Linked DNA regions of Homo sapiens: region 2 is linked to region 1. The links come from fine-mapping of genetic effects on plasma protein levels. Region 1 holds a variant in brackets. A gene starts in the other region. All regions are shown on their forward strands.

Region 1 (9,959 bases):
GATCTGTGTGTTTTTGCATCTTCCCCAGGATTCTACAGCTATGGCACATTGCTTAAACCATGCAGAGTGAGCACAAATATTTGATAAGCAAAGCTGAATTTTTAAAAAGTCTTTTAGGGGGAAGAAATGGCATTGTAGCTACTGTATGATTTTAATACATCTCATTGGAATGGCTAAGTTAAAAAACAACAACAACAATGAAGATTGCCAAAAAAGTAAACAAAAAACAAACTTTAAGGACAAATTCCATGTACTTGCACTTATGTGAGTTAGAATTATTTTAGCCTGCTCTCTGTAATTATTAGCAGTAATACGCTTATTAACTTGTGAATTTAATACATATGGCATCAGTGTAAAATCCAATGATGATATCAAGAGAAATCACAAAATGATCGTTTTCTCTCTTTATCCTAAGCTGAGCAAGGAACCTTTCCAAACAGTGTGAACTCATTGGCTTCCCCATAACTCTACAGAGCTCGCGCTGCCATATAACTGGGAATCAGAGAGGTGAGGTCATTTCATCACTCCTTGCAAAAAAATGCAAAACGTCTGCTAAAATCTGACTTCATTTGATTTACTCTCCAAGACTGTTTTTTATTAAATATGTTTGACTGCTATCTCTAATTAAATGTAGAATTAATTTTGGCAAACTAACCACAGATGCAGTTTATGTTCAATTTTATCAGACAGATTTATTTATAAGCTGTCAACTTCTTGAAAGACTTCATTTTGGAGCAGTTTTAAATTGCTAACAGTAGCTGTAAATGGAGCTACTGTTCTCTGGAACACTAAAGGAAAAGTATGCTATAAATGTCCATTCCATCTGTGAGGAATCATAAAACAATCACATTCCTTTATTTTTTTTCCTCCGTAGGACCTTTATTAAATTAGTTCAACTCAATTAAAAATAACTTCAAAAACATTTCAGAGCCTTTTGTTTCATGGAATACTTGGAACTCTCTGCACGGAACGTCACCCTTTTAACTAATCCCTTTTACTAAATGGAGGAGAATAGTGGTATTGTGACTTCAGACAGTGCTTTCAAGGGTCTCTACTGTACCGAATTGAGGTCACTGCAAGACAATGCTCAACACCCAATAGCCATTCAAACGTTCTTCACAACTCTATCAAACGTGTCTTTCTTTCTCTCACCCGCTTTCTCTCATGGCAAACTCAGAGGACAATGGAAAAAGCCTCCAGCACCATTTATGGTCACCATATTTGCACATGACAAAATCTATTCTTCCTGGTTTGCCAACTCCCTGTAAAAAGAATGAACCCTGGGATAGATTTTCCCACCGTTACTGTTATTCAAACTTACTTTGTATTTAATTTTGTTGTTGTTGTTGTTAGAGGGCTGATGCATGGCATTTGAGAAGCTGACTTGCTATTTTCGAGCATGTGTAACAAAGCAGAGACTAAATGCAGAATTAAATATGTCACATTATAGCCAGCATATGCATGACGGAGCGTACAACTCAGGACAAAGCAGAGACAAATGATGGGACTGGAACTATTATACCTTGTCTTATTGTTTAGTGTTATCAGTATTATAAAACTCACTGTTTCCCTGTGAACCACCATGTCTGTGCCCCACAAGCACTATTTAGTTTTGCCTGGGAGTTTTTATGGCTGCAGCCACAAACAAACAAAATCAATTGCTGTAAATTTCTCTCACCAGGGCTGCTCCTTTCGAAAAGAAAAAAAAAAAAAAAAAAAAAAAAAAAAAAGATGTATCCAGAGCCTCATCCTCCAAACAAACAAGAAAGAACACATATTTGCAAGCTATATAGTAAAGTTGTTACAATTAAGATTTTGATTTTAATTAAGAATGGGATTTGTAGGACAATTAGTGAGATGTAATATTCTTTGCAAGAAACGGTGCCCTTATTGGAAATACCATATAAAATGGAATTGGGGGCATTTGGAGCTGCACAGAGACTTGTTTCTATGGATTTCTACAGATAATGAGAAGAAAAATACCAGCAAAATGTAGATAACTCACCTGAAATGCAGAAATATTAATACTGTTTGATCTTTTTTTTTCTTAGTTTTTTCTTCTCTTTAATTCAGGTCATAGTTATCTTTGCTGTTGAGATTTTAGTCAGGTGTCCTCTTACTATTAATATACTTTATAAATTCTTCATTTATTCTAAACCACTAATTATTAGAAGTATACCTCATCTCATTTGCTTTTATAAAGATTTAATTACACAAAGATATAATGATAGATTTAACGATAATAATGGCAACAAACTTCTCAGTTATGTTGGTCACGCTTAGCTGCCCTAACATTACAAAGAGGACTCTTTCTATTATTCTGTCATGTTAAAGAACAGAATTTGTGTAATTCCTTAAATGTTAGAATAACCTTTCCTTGACAGCATATAGATTTTCATGTGTTATGAAAACTAAAAATGCATTCCCTAATCAAACGGCTGATAATTTTTCAAGTGTATTCAATTTGTTATACAATACAATTTTTATTTCTCCTCTTCACCATAAGATTAAGCCTTAGTAAGCAAATTAAAGGACCTCCTTCCCTGAACACATGAAAAAATTGTAATAGTGACTATTTCATCAGTTATTATGCCGTGAATTACAAAGACCAAATATATATAATCACACATACAAGATTTAAAACATGTACTGAGCACCAACTTTCTGCAACATTTATTCTACAGTATTTTCTAAGCATATGCTATCTGCCAGGCATTGTACCAAGCCATGCTACAGTACAATACACATTGTAGATGCCTTAATGCAGTTTATAATCGGCTGGGAAAACATACAATTAAACATTTGTAATCACTCACTGTGAAGCACTGTAGGTGCAGAAATAGGTATAACGTTTTTTTCTCAGTTTAGAAGTCAAAAGGGGAACTTCCCCAGAACTATGGGAGGCATCCTGAGTGTAACTTACCACAGTTATTGAGTAGCCATCTGAAAAGCATCGTGCTAAATTTATTAGGATTGAAAGGTGAAAAACTTAGAATATAGCTATAGCTGGGGTTTGGGAAAGAGTAGAGGAGAAGCAAGAAGGAATAAAATGTAAAAACACAAGGAAACAGTAATATGTCTGGATCATAATGAGGAATAATTAGTGGCCCACTTTATTTCTAATGAGGCTATTTATATGGAATTAGGGCAAAATAGGTCTGGAAATCTAGGCTGGAGCCATAGAGTACTTGCTGGTCCTTAAGTGCTACCCTTAAGTACAGCTGACTCGTGTGGGACGAGATAGAGAACTAGAAAAACAAATTCCAAGGCTTCTTCAGGATCTCACCGGAGAAGGAATGAGAGTCTGGTGTTTCTGCAGTGCAAGAGGAAAGGAGGAAAGGCACTGAGGAGATAAAAAATCTGTATGATTTGGAAACCACAGATATGGTGGGCAAAAGAGGAAGTAAGTCAACATGATCTGAACAGGTTTACATTAGTCTGGATGTATCTATAAGGTTGAACTATGTGAAACTGCCAATCTAAAATATCCAGGTGATATTTGATCAGAGGCAGTGGAGAAAGAAGAGCAGTCCAAGGGGATAAATTCAGTTTGTGTCTAGATTCAGGAAGCAGAAGGGTGAAGTGGAGTCAGTAAAATGGTTAAGTGAAACAGTCTACTGTAGAGATGGGATTCTGACTTAATTTCCTTAATATCACAGAAAAACATGGGAGAGCTCCTGACTTTTATCTCCAGTGTTAGCTTCAAAATAGATTTCATATCTTGAGTATCTCTCCAAAACCTAAGATTCCTGATTCTTTATTTTGCTCCTTCATTATCCTTTAATTAAATCCCTTATGTGTGATATTCTTTAAAATGAAATCTTAGTTTAAAAATAGTCCTCTATACATTTCATTTCAGAATCCATTATGTCAAGGGAAAATATTGGAAGTAAAATATGAACATGGCACATTTCAACAATTCAAACGTCCACTACCAGTTACAATAACTTTGCTCTTGTTATCAGCTGTCAGCATTAGTTTCAAAAGTGGTGCTCCTCATGCAGTTTCTAATCATCTTCTCCCTCCCATTTTATTCTAGAACTCCAGTGTAAACCCAAAAGGCATAAACTGCCTTTTAATAGTTGTTCTGTTATGCATAGCCCTAACCTATCACTACATGTTTTACATTAATACTACAAATGATACATCTTAACTATAGTTATCTTTTTACTAATTGATAAGCTTTATATAATAACAATGATGCTAACAGAAACCTTTAAGTGATTATATTTATATAAATCACTTGGCTATCTGCCTTTTTCACTTTCTAACTACCTTGTGGAAGAAGTGTTGTTAACATCATACTCTCACAATGATTATGTGAGACACAGGCTGACTTCAAAACCACAAGGACTACCTGAAAAAAGAGGGCGCATGTTCTTAGCAT[G/GATAATAAAACCA]GCTGACGTATACAGCCACCACTATCCTACTGGATTCCTCTGTTCAAATTAAAAAGATACTTTCTTTTGCCTGACCTTGCCCAGCAAGCAAGAGCATGGCCAGGAAGAGGGGCAACAGATGCCTTTCAGCCTGTTCACCCTGAATTCATCCCCTCAATGGAATACCTTTGGGCCATCTGAAAACTACACAATGTAATGTGGGCTCATGCCAGGGACTCTGCTATATGTGCCCCAGATACACTATCTCAGTTCATTCTCACCATGGCTCTATGAGTTGGATACAACTTTGTGCCCACTTTACAGAGGTCAACTAACTTGCCCACAGTCATAGCTAGTCAGGGGAAACATCAAAGTTGTCAGATGGCAGCGTGACCTCAGAGCCCTCATTCTTAGCTTCAACAAATTATTGGAAGTATCATTATGTTAAACCAGGACTTTATTTCATATATTTACATAATTATATTTTGTTAATTATTTGGCTATAATATATACGTGTGCTAATAGTTAAGGGCTAAGTCCCACATACACCTTAGAAACTACTATTTTCTTATGTAATTACTTCCTAATAAATGGGAGAGAGGGAGATCTAGAAAGATGTCTCACCAACGTAATTCTTATAACAAAATGAAATTTGTTATATTTGAAAGAAGAAAAGTTCTTCATTTTGGAAAGAAAAAAAATCTTGTCATTGACAAAGAAGAAAAACTAATATTAAGTTTGGGTAAAGAAATTAACTGTGAAAATATCCCTCCCTCTGACACCCTCCTCAAATAAAAGCTTACACAGCACACATAAATTGGTAAAACAATCCCCACAGGTAAGATAAACATCATAAGTTGTCCACACAGACAAGAACGGATATGCTAAAAAAAAAAAAAAAGTATTTGAAATTACACTACAAATATTTTACTTGGTAGTAAAATACTTAAAGTATTTCTCAGCTCAGACTACTTTTGCCAAATCAGAAGTTTTCTTTTGCGTGGTTAAGAAAGCCAAGAGTATTCAAAATATTTTTTAAACGGTTCTACCTATGATTCCCTCTGTTTCCAGTGGAAGCATTGGCAAACACAATTTGGCTGTTAAGGGAGGGGAAAATGCAGTACATTTTTTTTTTCATTGTCAAAATATACTCTTAGTTAAGAAACCCCTAGTTGGAAATAATTGAAAATCTGTGAAGTATAATAAGTACCTACCCAGACTACATAGACTCTCAGAATTTGTTTCTCCTAAGACATGATTACAGAATCAACTCAGGACACAATGCTAAATTCCTACAGTGCTTGTAAAAACTGCCACAGAAACAGCAAATCTATTTGCTAGTTTTTAAAGTAATCTTACATTACTTGAATGTAATGTCATGTAAAATTCTATATAGAATTTTGTAAATAATGAGGGGCAGGGGGAGAGGGAGAGAATGAGAAAGAGTAAACTGTCATGTTTTAAGAAAAACTAGTTTAAAAATACACTCATGAAGCTAGTCAGAAGAAGAACATTTCAGAAATGATTCTCCTGGTACTGATATTTCACCTACAAACCCAATCTTTTGTTTGTACTATATTATTACTTACTTGTTCACTTCTAGTAACTATATTCTTTCTATGGAGTTTGAGTGGTCTGAAGGCCCAGGAGACAGTCAAAACATTCAGCAAAACAGTTAAGCTCTTCTATTTTCTTTCTTTACATTAGTCGTTACATATAAACCCACTAAGGTTAGGAAGAATCTCCAAGCTCAAAGAAAATGTAACTGTGAGACACAAAAACACAGTCAAATATTCAAGGTTTAGAATATTATGTTCATTTACTCGAATAATCTTTAAATTTGTCACAAGTGGTATTTCAACAATAGTTCGGAATGTACCAATCAAAAAGAGGGTTCTAAGATCATTAAACAAAAATGGCATACACATATCGTGTTTTCACAAAACTTAGAGTGACCTTTTTCTAAATTATTTAAATATATGTTTAATTAACTCAGTACTAAGGGCTCATGCATATGTTTCTACATGTTGGACACTGCCCAGACAGTTACAGTACAACCACATGCTTTAAGAATTATCAAGTGTGTGTTCTCTGTCTCTCTCTCTCTCTTTATATTTTAGAATTGCTTATCATTATAGAATGGTAATAATAATCCTAATTATTGTTCCAGGAATTGCCAAAATTTTATCATAATTTGAGTGAAATGCATAAGAAAAAAGGACACATTGACAAATTTTCAAATAGAGATGTAATATTTCATTTGTGACATCCACTGTTACACGTACATTCAAAGGAATAATAATAATTGATTATGTCTCTTACCTTTATTACTCGTCATCTCTTGCTTCTATTTTTACCTTGAGTGTTTATTAAAGTGTACAGAGTAAAACCAATAGGGTGCTTTGCCTACAAGTGTCAGGCAGATTTACTTGGTTACCAAGGTACAAAGGTCTACACGGGGAGGATGAGTTTATTTTATCTTTGACAAAATGATTAAAATGGCAGATAATATGCTTTTCATTTTGCTGAGAGCAAATACTTGAAAAGGAATTGTGAACGTGGTATATTGAGAATGCAATGACCTTCAAATTAAGGCATAACCCTGGCTTGTAAACTCTGAGATCATTTAATTTACTACTGTAGATATATGTTTACAATATGTAGAATATGCCTCTTTTCTAGGAGCAGATTGTTAAACATTTTTTTTTTGTATAGGAAATCTTCCTTTTAAAATATTGTTGGGGGTTAGTATTTTAAAATAAACCACTCTAAATATTCACATCCTCTATTTATATGAATAACAGGAAAAAATAAAAGCATCTCTTATTTCTCCCCCTTACTAATAGAACTAACAGGGTCTTGGGTGTAATGAAGGAAAGGCAGGCTCTTTAGCCCTCAACATTCTTCCAACTAGTGAGTTTCTAACGATATCTCAGAAATGGGCCAAAAAGCAGGAGGAAGCACTTGCATCCCCCAGGAAAGCTACAAGCAATGGGTAATAATCTCTGCTATTATATTTTAGAAATACTAAGAGAAAGTATAGATATGTCTTTTCATTAATCTCATCTTTAAAAAAAAATCAAGGATATGTCAACACAGGGTTACTGAATCAAAAACATATTGATTGATATTACATATTTTTCAGCATCAATTTAAGAGTAAACATAGATTTTAGGGAAAACTGATGCATTTTGAAGATAGGCTTTTCCTTACCCCTGTAATTATAAGCTCTGAATAAGCTGTCTTAGAATTGTCTATTGTTGGCATTTACATAGTGTAGCAAAAGTTTTTCATTTTAATAAGAACAGTCTACTATCAACTATTTTCACTACTAAAAGCTGCTTTAGTGAGGTTTGCATGGGCATTGACTTACCACAACTCTGCACACGCACCTTTTCAATCAATAAAAGATAATAAAATATTGATTGGTGAACAAGAGAAGCACCGAGAGAAAACACACATATGAATTTGATAACTTGAATCTAAGCAAATATTCTAGAGATCTGATATTAATGAAGATGTGACTTACTAGATGCGAAAGGGCTCATTTTAGTCTTTTCTTTTCTCTACTCACCCTTTAATCACTACCATTTCCGAGTATTTGTTGTTTCTACTTGAATATGGCTATAGATTATACTGAGAAGACATCATCTTATTTCTAAATCAATCATTCTTAAACTTTTCCAATTCAACACATTTGAGGAACATTATACAATCCTACTGATAACAGTGGATTATGGCAGTAAATTTTAATTAGGGGGATATTTTTCAAATGAGGAAAAGTATGATTTTAAAAGTGCCTTCTTCACTGGCCTTCTGAATCACATCCCATGGAAAGGTTATATCACATGGATGTGAATCATTGCCAATTTCTTTAAGAATGAAACAGGATATTCCACTATTGATGTTTATGCCTGAGACGCCTACAATAAAAGTGCTGATGACTCGTTAAAGAGAATTTAGATAACACCAGTTATATACTCCTGGTTGCAAATGAAAAATACTGGTTTCATCCAAAGTCGGTAATATCTCAATGTAAAAATACCCATACATTTTCAGAAGATAAAAATATTAGTGAAGTAGGAAGATAAGAGAAATATAATTTCTAGCTGATCAGTAATTCCTTATTTTAGTCCTTGCTTCTAACAAATTCCTCCATATATAGGAAAGAGCAGATTTTTCTGCTTCATCCTAAAAAACAAAGAACGATTGCTACTCCCTTCCCCCCAGTTTCTATATACAGTCACTAAGATCCATCTGCATTACAGTCGTCATTACAAATGATAGCTTTGCCAAATCTAGTCCCACAAATTGATATATTGGAAAAACTGGCATGAATATTTTAATGCCCTGCCATTCTAAAGAATAAGCTTTAGGCTTTATATTTATACATGAATATTAGGAATGTATACATGACTATACATGCATGTCTTTATACATTCAGGAACAGAACATATAATCAAATAGAAAAATTAAATGTTTGTTAAATTATTTTTATAATTAACTACAGAGCTATATTGTCATCTTTGATAAATGTGGGAAATTGAGGCACAGAAGTACCCTCTAGGTGATAACCAAACAGCATATGACAAAGAGCAGAAAGACTGGTAAAACGCCCAGGCCTTATGTGCTTTCCTCTCTGGTCTAAACACCAGATTGCCATAGAGATTCCTATAAGGAATTCTTTAAGATGAGACCTGAATAGTTAAAGTAAATGAAAGATGCATTCTGAATATGGGAACTCTCAGCTATTATATTCCCTTCTTCATTTCTGGATGGTTCGTTAGCCCTCCACAAGTGTTTGGTACAATAAAGGAGCTACAAAGTGGTTCTAATGACTTTTCCAATTATTACACTTATCTCTGTTATATAGGAAATGGAAAGCAGCATGTAGGTATTTTTTTCCTTTATTCAAGGAATCAATACGTAAGACCACGTAAAACAACTTAAGAATGAACCAGTATTCTTAAAATAAGACATTTTAATGACTAAATATTTTAGATGTTTAACAGCATTGTAACATTTCATTTAAAATGTCTAGAAATCCCCAGAATATGGAGACTACCCCATTTTTAAAAACTGCATTTTTATTAAAAGCCTATTAAAATATTGTCCTTCTCTTTTCATTTACTTAGATCTTGAAATGAAAAACAACAAATCTATAGTTTACAAGTGCCCTTTCCAAATCCTTACCTTCAAAATCAGTGAAAGTTATAATTTATCTCACTTTGGAATGATAGTTGGCTAACGAAAGGGAAGCATAAACTCACATTCACTTACATTTCTATGTGACCACTGAGAACGCTTGTAGAATTATAAAGTGCTCTTTCTTACTGTTTGGTCAAAGACCACTGACTAAATCATCCCAAGAGCTCAAAGAGACATATGTAATGCCAGTAAGTGAGACGACAAAATTATATATTAGTACAATTCCATGAAAAGAAAATATTTAAAAGTGAGAAAATTACTGTACAGTCAAAGGAGCCTTCTCAACAAAAAATCCAAATACTGGATATTCCAAATATTTCAAATACTCAGATTACAGTATGGCCAAAATATAGACATATTTTACTATACCAATAGTTTCATTATT
Region 2 (9,959 bases), not on the chromosome of region 1:
ACTTTTGTGAAAACATCAGTGCCTCCTGGAGACACACTTTTATTTTGAGATTTGGACTGTAGTTCTTGTTCTCAGTAATCAGGAATTATGAAGCCAGCAATATTGTCCAATAATTATTTTTATAAACCATTCTAAAATTATTTCAGAGTAATAAGGATTAGGTAGAAATATAGAAATGCTACATATTAAGATGTTCATTCACTATTTTAACAGTAAAAATGTATATTATACTGTAATTTTAAAAAATAAATGAGTGAATTTTTTAAGCCTTTGATTCTCTAAGAAAAATAAATGCTAGCACTAATAACTGAAAAATAGAGAAAGCTACTAGGATGGGGAAAAGTTAAGCAAAAATACAGAAAGTAAAAGATTTTACTAATAATAAGAGGCAAAAAACAAAGCACTCTTAAGGAGGAGCTGATTAAATTAAAAAGTGAAATACAAATGAAAGAAAGTATTACATTTGTACAAACTCAGAATTACGGAAAAAGAAAATTAAAATAAGTACATAATAAATGCCATTGCTCAAAATGCTTATATCTCATTAAATTAACCAAAGTTTTTATAATCTTTCCTGAATTTGATATTCTTTTCTTTTAAGGTGTTCTTTCAAGAACTTTGGTGTTTTTATTTTTCTTTCCCCAATTTCCTTTTTCTGTCCTATTGTTTTTCCCTCTAGTGTATACAGATTTCTACATGTCCAGTACATTTCCAGTGAGATAAGCCAATACACTTCTCTGTCATTGAGGTACCTCTCTTGTCCGCTTTATACTTTTGTCTCTTTCTTGCATAAGTCAATTTCTTCTGATAAAAAAAAAAAAAGAAAAAAAGAAATTTGAAACTGACCTTGAAGAGGCAGTTTGGTAAATAGACACATATTCTCTAACATGAGTTCAACTGGCTCCTTCACAATTCAAAAATGAATTGTCTACCAAACAAAGTAGATGTTTCAGAGATACGCCAAGCTTGGCAACAGGAGAAATCATGGACGCTGCTAAAGCAGCAACAGCTGATTTCATAGTCATGGAATGATCCTGCACCTGATCCCTGTCAAGATAACAGAGGGTCTTATTTACTGTCTCCAGCTTTGGTCCGTCTAAGTAGGTACTGTTTTCTGTTTACTTATCCCCCAGCTTTAGGCCTGGAACAATGTTGAACATAGTGTCACAGGCCCTGGTGCCAGACAGGATCAGGGGCTGCGGAATATTTACAGTTTCCCTTCTTCTGCTTCCATAAATGAAATGGACAGTCTGAATGGAGAAAATCAAGGGCCAGCTGGCTAAAAACACAACTGGCAGCAAAACAGTTGGGCCCCTTCCAAGAGCTGGTGTTTAAAGAGAGGCCATTTAAAGAGCAAAGTCCACCTACCACAATAGTGGGCCAGGACACTAGCTGTAGGATGAAACAATGCAATTTCACTCAAAATGATTTTTGTTTCCAAAGTTTGGAAACTAGATGTGCCCCCTTCTTCCCAAGAAATTTTCTAGTCTTAGGGTCAATCCCTTAAAATAGCCAATCTTTCCACCCATAACAAATAACAAATGTATAACTTTGAGAATGTTAAACAAATTATGTGCCACGCTGGCCAAAGTCTTATTTTTGCTTAAGTTCACGCAAACACACAAAAATAAAATTAAGAAACCGAGATGGGAAAAGACAGGAACAAAAAATGACTTAAGAATTTAGATGGGATAGCATGGAAGACAGTCAGACACTTAAACTAATTTGAGAGGTTATTAATATATCATGAGGCCAACTGACAAACACAATTTTCTTTCTTTCTTTCTTTCAATAAAATGTTACTCCAACTTTGCTGTTTAAGAAAAAATGCAATAATCTTCTTGGGGGAAAACTCACATTGAAGCACTTGGTAACTAGTACACAAATGCTAATGTTTTTTTTTTTTTCCTTGTAGGCTCTGATGATGACAACCTTAGGCTGGCCATTTACTTAACCCTAAAATCTCTGACAAGTGCCAAATCAGAAATACGCATAACACCATATTCAGGGAGATAGATTTATACTCCAAACAATTCTGTATATTGTGAGATCATCCTTTTTTTACAGCCCAGGAGCAGATGAATTTGAAGGTGATTTCGCGAAGCTGCCTCTTTTTGTATATACATACATGCATAAATGATTGGAAAGAGAAATGAAAGAGGGCCCCAGATAAAAAGGAAAGGCGTTCAGCTAGATAGGTGCATCCAGCAGCAGTTCTCTGATGCTATAATCCCGAAAACAGATAAAGCCACTAGCTTGAGAGCCCCTGGAAGGCATTACCTCTATATAGGGCACGATCTTGCAGGAGAAGTCCTCCAGCAGCCACTTCTTGGTCAGCTCGTGGAAGATGACCAGCGGAAGGCAGAAGAAGATGATGAGAAAGTCCCAGAAGGCCAGGTTGGCCAAGAGGGAGTTGGAGATGCTCCGCATGTAGTAGTTGTGGCACACGATGCACATCACCGCCAGGTTGCCAATGATGCCGGTCCCGAAGATCACCACGGACAGACACATGACCGCGTAGGCTCCATAGGACTCCTGGGTCAGCGGGTAGAAGGGGTTCTTCAGTCTCACACGCCGGTTCGTGCTGTTTCCCCGGCGGGGACCCCCAGGCTCATGGATTCCTTCACCCAAGGATCCATTCTGGGCCAGCGCCCGGCCCGGGAGTGCAATTGTCCACCCTTCGTGCCCCGCCAGTCCATTGGCCGTCTTGGACAGGGGCTTGTGGTGGGAACCCTGGAGTTTCCCGGCTCTCCTTGGCCAGTAAAAAAGATCGCTGGCTCCGGGGACTGTCTTCACACTCTGCTCCTGGCTACGCCCGGAAATGCCAGCGCCTCTGGGACCCTTCTCTTCCTCCTCTGAGATCTGAAGGAAGAGCTGGAGGGCCGTGGGGTTCCCTCTCCCCAAAGTTTCAGAAGGCTCCTGACCCCGAGCACCTTTCCACCTCCAGGGGCCAGGTGGCCTGGTTGGAGGTCCCGGGGGTCCGGCTGCCGACGCCTCCGCCCCTCTGCCTGCAGCCGGGTCACGGCCCGGGGCCGCCGGCAGGTCCCAGGAGGGTCCCGCAAGAAACGCTGCCCCCTGCTCCTCCCTGGGTGCTCGGGCTCGCAGAACGTCTCTTGCAGAATTTCCCGGTCCCCAGGCGTCCCTGCCGCGGCGCTGGATCACTGTAGGTGCACAGCTCTCCCCCAGACAAGTTTCGTTTCTGGACGCAGGGGCGACCCCGAGGGCAGAAGAGGCAGACACCTTGAGCAGTAGCAGAAGCAGTAGCCGCGACATGCGGGCGAGAAGCGCGCCCGGGGCTCGCATGGCTTGGTGAGGGCACACCCGGCAGCCGCAGCTCCTGCTTAGTTAGGATCGACACCTGCTGCCGAAGTTGCTGCTGAGAGTTAGGCACATGTCACATACTCACCCCCGCCCGGGTAGCGGGGAACCGGAGATTAGGGTGATAGCGGAAGATCGGTCTTGGGGGTCACACACACGCCCCCTATAATCCTTCCTCCTTTGGCATCTTGTGCATTTCTCAGCCAAGTTGAGTCCCAGCAAGGTATGCCCTCCAAGGTTCCTAGAGGGAATAGGCTACTCCCGGTGGCTGACCTTGAAAAGTTGCAATCAACACCTGACTGTTGATTACTGTTGAGACTCGGGGGAGCCCAGACGAAGCCCCACACTCCTCACTGCCTTTGGGTGGGGGTGGTGGCCTTCTTGGTAACAGTTGCTCTGCCTATTTACATCCTTTCGACAGCGTTTGATCCAGTTGCAAGCCGAGGTCTCTAGAGGAAAAGAAAAACAAGTCCCCCTCCCCCAGACGACTCGCAGTCACAACCCCGCTCCCAGCTCGCTGGAAACACGTTGCAAACAGTCCGAAGCAGCGCTGATGCGCCGGCGAAACTCTTGCCCCACCTAACCCCAGCGACTTGCGAGCCTACTGCTGCCGAGGAGAAGCGGGATTCCAACCCCGCGGCCACTGCCAAAGTTGCTTCTCCTCCAGCTCAAAGTTGACGACGGGGCGAAGCAGGCTGCTGGACGGCGTGCCGCCGCAGAGAAGGAAATCGTGGGGAGAAGGGGGAGAAGAGGGCGCCGCTCGTCGGTGGACAGTGCCGCTAGCCGCGGGAGCTAGTCACTGCCACAGCGGGCTCAGCCCGGACGGGAAGGGTGGTGCCTGGAACCGCCGCGGGCCAGGCAGTGCGCGGCCGGGAAGGGGAGGTGGCCCGGCCTCGCCCCCGCGCTCCAGCCGCTGCGCGCGCCCGCGAAGCTCGACTCTCGGCTCGTTGCCTCCTCCCACTCCTTCGCCTCCTCCTCGGAGAGATACTGGTTTGTGGGGAGACGGGATCCCCTGGTGGTTCACCACTCACTAAACCCACACACGTTTCATTCAAGCCATTTGTAGCGGCTTCCACTCGGAGGAGCTGGGAGGGAACAAGGGCGGAGGCGCGGAGCCTGCGCGGCTCGAGGCTAGGGATGGGCGGGACAGGTTAATTCCCCAGCTGTCGAAACCAGCCTGACAGGTCCCCGAGCCCGGGCTAGGGGCGGGTGCGGGGCGGGAGTGGGGGGTGGGGGTGGGAACGGGAATATGAGAGCGGTCGGGGGAGGGAAGAGAGGAGGGTAGCAGGGGAGTGAGCAGCAGGGTCCCCTCCAATCTGTTGCGGCTGATGCGCATGCCCAGGTCTCAGCTCTGGGGGGCGAGGGGCGGGGCGGGGGAGGGGCGGACGGGGGTTGGGCCGCGGGGAGTAAGAAGGTGAAACCTCACCTCCTCAGGTATTCCCTAGAGATAGGAGAGAATGGGAGCTCAGAGGTGTCAGTCATAGAGAATTACCAGTTCCAGGATTGAGATGCAGAGCGAGAAAGCTCAGGATGCACCATTACCTTTAACACTGAGTTGGGAAGCATCCTACCATGGGTTACTTCGTACCACCCAGAGCATAGTGAGGTAGTTGTATTTGATGAAGTAGTGGGAAATGACTGGAGGCAGAAAATTACTCGAACAGCACTCCCAGCACGGCTGTCCATGCCTTTCCAACCTTTCTACTATATCCCACAACCCTGTCAAAACTGTCAGGGCATAGCTAATAAAATAGACAAATTAATGAAGAGAAAATGATAGAGGAAGAAATAAACACATTCTGAATTTTTTTTTTAAACAGAGTCTTGCTGTGTCGCCCAGGCTGGAGTGCAGTGGTGCGATCTCGACTCACTGCAACCTCCGCCTCCCCGGGTTCAAGCGATTCTCCTGCCTCAGCCTCCCAAGTAGCTGAGACTACAGGCACCCGCCACCATGCCCGGCTAATTTTTTTTGTATTTTTAGCAGAGACGGGGTTTCACTATGTTGGCCAGGCTGGTCTTGAGCTCCTGACCTCGTGATCCGCCCGCCTCGGCCTCCCAAAGCGCTGGCATTACAGGCGTGAGCCATCACACCCGGCCTGAATTTTTTTAAAGCAACACATCTAGAGAGGCAGGAGAAAACACAATGGAACATATGATACCAATTGTGGTAAATAGAATAATGCCCCCCCAAAAAAATGTCCGAATCCTAATTCCTAATACCTGTGAGTATGTTACCTTACAGAGCAAAAGGGATTTTGCCAATGCAATTCAGCTAAGACTCTTGAGATGGGGAGAGTATCGTGATTATCCAGGTGGGTACACTATAATCACAAGAGCCCTTACAAATGAGAGGCAGGAGGGTCAGAGTAAAAACAAACACAAGCCAAGTGATGTGGGCAATCTCTGGAAGCTAGAATGGGCATAAAAAAGGATCTACTAGCCCATTTGAGACTTCTGACCTCCATAACTGTAAGATAATGAATGTGTGTTGTTTTAAGCCACAAAATTTATGGTTATTTGTTGCAGTAGCAATAGTAAACTAATACACCATTAAATCTAAAAATGGAGACAACAGGAATAATTGTATAGAAAAACATAAACTACCAAAAATAGTTCAAGAAGAAAATTTTCAGAAACTGTAATCGAACTATAACATTAAAGAAATCAAATCATTCATCAAGATCTACCCAGAGGAAAGTGCTAGACCTTAGCATATCCTGCGGAATAAATATACATTTATACAAAATGTTTTAAAGCTACTCAGTTCATTTTGTGAAGGCAGAATAACCTTAATGTCAAAATCAGACAAAGCCAGAAATAGGAAAAAATATAAGCTAATAGCACACATTCATTTGTACATTAATTCATTCATTTATATACACTAACTCATTCTCTCAAATTCACTACTTCATTAAAGAAATATTCTGCTCAAGTTACTTAGGTCAGAGCAGTGAATAAAATAAAGTTCTGCTCTCACTGAATTTATATTTTCTTGTATACTCATAAAAAGGACAAACTAGGCTTATGTGTATCACCAAGACTGAATCTCAGAAACATAAATGTAAGGGAAAAACGTAGAACTTGATGTGTTAACTATATAATGCTACCATTTGTGTAGCTCTTAAAATGCACATAAAACAATTTGATAATCATACATGGTGTATCATATAAAATATGTGAATGGAATAAATACAGATCAACTTCAGAATATTAGTCACCTCAGGAAATAGAAGAATGGTCATGGGATGGAAGGAAGCTTCTACTCTAACTGTAGTATCTTGTTTCTTTAAAAAAAATTTAGAAGAGGGAAATCTGGATTAATAATGAAACAGGAAAAATAAGTTGCCAAAATGAAACAGTGATATAGCTTCCCTTCTCATCTCATTAGCTTAGAGTTTAAGTTACACATGTAAGATATGTTTCTATCCTTTTTACTCTAGACCACATAAATGTGTCACTAATCTCTATCACTACACAGAAAGGAATCAAAGCTAAACAGGGAAAAATCCCTTTACCTGCTCCCTTAGAAGCTCCATTGTAATTCACACATGCTTGGCCCAGAGTTGGGCATCATTCTTAAAGTGGTGGGCTATAGAACTCAGGTACCATGCTTGGAGAGTGGCTGGGGAAAGGCCTGAAGGAGGAGCTACCTGTGTTTGTCTGTGGTGGTATCTCATTCATGAGTGGTCCCTTCCTTAACCTGAACAATGATGCCTACCTACTTGGATGGTTGCCAAGTTCTGGTTCTCTAACTTATTCGGACCATGAATAAAACCAAAGAGCTCCAGCTACTCTATTGGAGCCCAGGTCAATATCAATTATTTATAAAATTGTGTTTCCAAAAATATCAATTATTTATATTTTTGGAAACACAATTTTCTCATCTGTATAATAAGGATACTAATACCTACTCTCAGCTCTGCTCACCCAAGTTGTTATGTGGATTAGGTAGATATGAAAAGACTACATAAAGTATAAAATATTTATTACTGTTGCTCTTGGTAGTTCAACTTTGTTTTTAGTGAAATTTAAATGCTGTCAAAAACACATAATCCTTGAAAAAGAATATGCTTGGTAAATAAAAGTGTAAAGTAATAGGTTTATAAGAAAATTTAGAATGCATTCCCTGCAAAAAGAAAAACACACATCTTCAAATATTTTTCCAAAGCTTAGCTCAGCTGTAACTATAAATTTTAAATGGAAATAGTCACATCTCATTCATTTGTGTAGATTCTACTTTAGAAATATAGATCAGAAAAGGAATTAGCTAATCATTGTCTGGTTTACATCTGAGGCCATTTATCTGTACAAAGAAAACTGATTTGAACATGGATTTTTTTTCCTGTGTCAGCATTTCACAAGGTTTATAATACATACTATTGATTTTTTTAATAAAAAAAGAACATGTAAATTATTACCTGCCTTGGCATTTTTATAAAATCTATTACACTTCATTTGGTGTTTGGTGTGCTGAAATAACACACATCACAGAATGAGAGAAATTACTATTTCAAGTTTTAAGATACATCGTTGAACAGAAGCTTTACCCAGCACACAATTCACTTATCAAATAATTTTCTTTCTTTTTTGCCTCAGATAATTCAAAAGGGTCATTTTTTCTGAAAGAAACTGTAACATACCACCAATAGATTATTATTTTCTGAAATTCAAAATTTGTCTGTTTTCCAAATAGTTTGTGGTTGCAGCCTTTCTGTCACTGAATTATTAATTGTTAGTTTGGAAGCCTCCATTGATCACCTTCATTAATCACCTCTCTCTTTTGCCATATATAAGAGCCAAATTATCATTAACGGGTGGGAAATGGCACTGCTTGGAATATAATATCAATATGGTTATGTCTACCTTAAAAATCAAATATCAAAATTAAAGTACTTAAAATTTAAAATAAAACAACAATAATCAAAATAGTCTTTTATTTATTCCAGACAAAAATGTAGACATTGGGCTACATAAAATATGTTTGAACCATACTTGGACCAGCACACTAATTGCATAGCCAAGTCCTTTGGGTTTTGTTGGATTCGGTTTGTTGTTGTTGTTGTTGTTGTTTGTAAAGAAACTTGAATGCAAAAGGGTGAAACTGAAGATGAATTAACACAAGCATAACCAAACATTCTCAACCTTTCATAATTCTTTATAGAAATAAATGCTTGTGAAATGCACCCCTACCTTTTGATCAACATCCTTTTTGAAGCAAAGATAATTTGGATACTTAGTTGGCCCTCAGCCAATAGCAATGTAGCAGGAGATCAGACCATCTCAGGCTTCAGCCTCTCATGACTTCTCAAATTGTGTATTTTCCCTAGCAAGCACATTAATTGTAAATCTTCCAAAAATCATAGTAAGCTGAACTTTTTAACAATTATCCAAAATAAATGTGATATAAAGATACATTTTATTGTATCTTTATAATACCAAAATAAATGTGATATAAAGATATACCAAAATAAATGTGATATAAAGATACATTTTACTTCCTTCTCCCAGAATTTGGGTACAAGCTGTATGCTATATCAATAAGATTCCTTCTGAGACTGTTTAAACCAAATCATCTTATTCTATATTGTTGCTCCATCTCTGACCAAGCATTATTATTTAAATTAGTTTTCTGTGTAATGTTGATACTGGATAATACACTAGAATAAATGCAAGTCAAGCCAAATTGCAGAAGTGTCAGCCTGGTTCAAATAACAAAGGCTAGCAAATTGGAATTTTTAGTATTCTGACCAGAATAATTTTTGTATACAGAGTCAGTAAGGAAGAGCATGGATTTCTATATGAAAAGTGAAAAGTTGAGATAGAAGGGATTTTAAAAGATAATACACCATTGATTTGGCTCTCCTGGCAACCTATTAAATTTTAGCTCTGGCAAAGAAATCAATTCAATGAACACGTACGTCTAAGACCTGAGTCTTGGCACATTTAGCATTATTTTCCTGATTAGTGGTTGAAATATAAATAGTACCAAAACAATATCTGCTTTGTGAGAGTTATAAAACTACCCTAAAGACTGGTCAAAAACAACAACAAATAGCTTTTCTAGTATAATCTTCCTGATTTGCTTGTTCACTTTTTAGAATCTTCTGCAGGTGATATTTTCTTTATTTGGATTGAGGTCCAGAAAGAAAGAAAAAAGTATCTCTGTGTTATATTTAGTTTTTTTAATTCACTCAGGATGTTGAGAGGGTGTGACTCAGTATTATCACAACAAATTGACCTGATAATGTAGACATTTTGAATGATCAACTTAATAGAATTTTAAGATTTGGCCCAAGGTTATGAAATTTGGATTGCCTGACATGACTAGTTTCTAGTGTTTGCATTGTCTTCCAAGGCCCCAGCTGGTCCATGGAATGCTTTTTCAAAGCTAGTTTCCTGCTTATTTCTTCATGAACTCAATATCCTTCCCTGAGCATCCCTGAGCACCAAAACAAAACTTTAGTTTTGAGTTTTAGACAGCAAGGAAACTGATTATCTCCTCTTGTGTTAAAGAGACTACACACATGTGATAACATGACTAAAGATCTTTGTGGTGGTCCAAAAGAAGCACCTCCTAGTGACTGCGAAATGTTCACAAGGGTGGTGTCTTTGGGGCCTTGTAGTATGTGGGCAGCGTCCCT

Alleles and levels. Alleles are on the strand shown, and positions count from the first base shown. The strength of an association depends on the size of the effect and on how common the allele is.
For the plasma level of the protein whose gene starts at base 4,119 in region 2, allele G in region 1 goes with a higher level than allele GATAATAAAACCA (weak association).

The links. PIP is the posterior inclusion probability: the model's chance that the variant is causal. Protein levels are from antibody-based Olink assays in UK Biobank. Linkage for the fine-mapping came from a reference panel and not from the study's own genotypes, which makes the PIPs less certain.
Region 2: GPR37 starts here. The variant in region 1 is fine-mapped to the plasma level of the GPR37 protein (UK Biobank, PIP above 0.99).

The regions. Positions count from the first base shown.
Region 1 is chr12:24,080,705-24,090,663 of GRCh38, forward strand. It overlaps a transcript of SOX5 not described here. Among named protein-coding and RNA genes, the nearest start is that of MIR920, 130 kb to the right of the region's middle. RefSeq lists an enhancer at 246-1,996. The variant G/GATAATAAAACCA (reference allele first, on the strand shown) is at 4,388.
Region 2 is chr7:124,761,674-124,771,632 of GRCh38, forward strand. GPR37 (G protein-coupled receptor 37) reads right to left here and starts at 4,119. Exons shown (of 2, transcript NM_005302.5): 1 at 2,281-4,119. The coding sequence starts at 3,303. RefSeq lists a silencer at 4,131-4,260.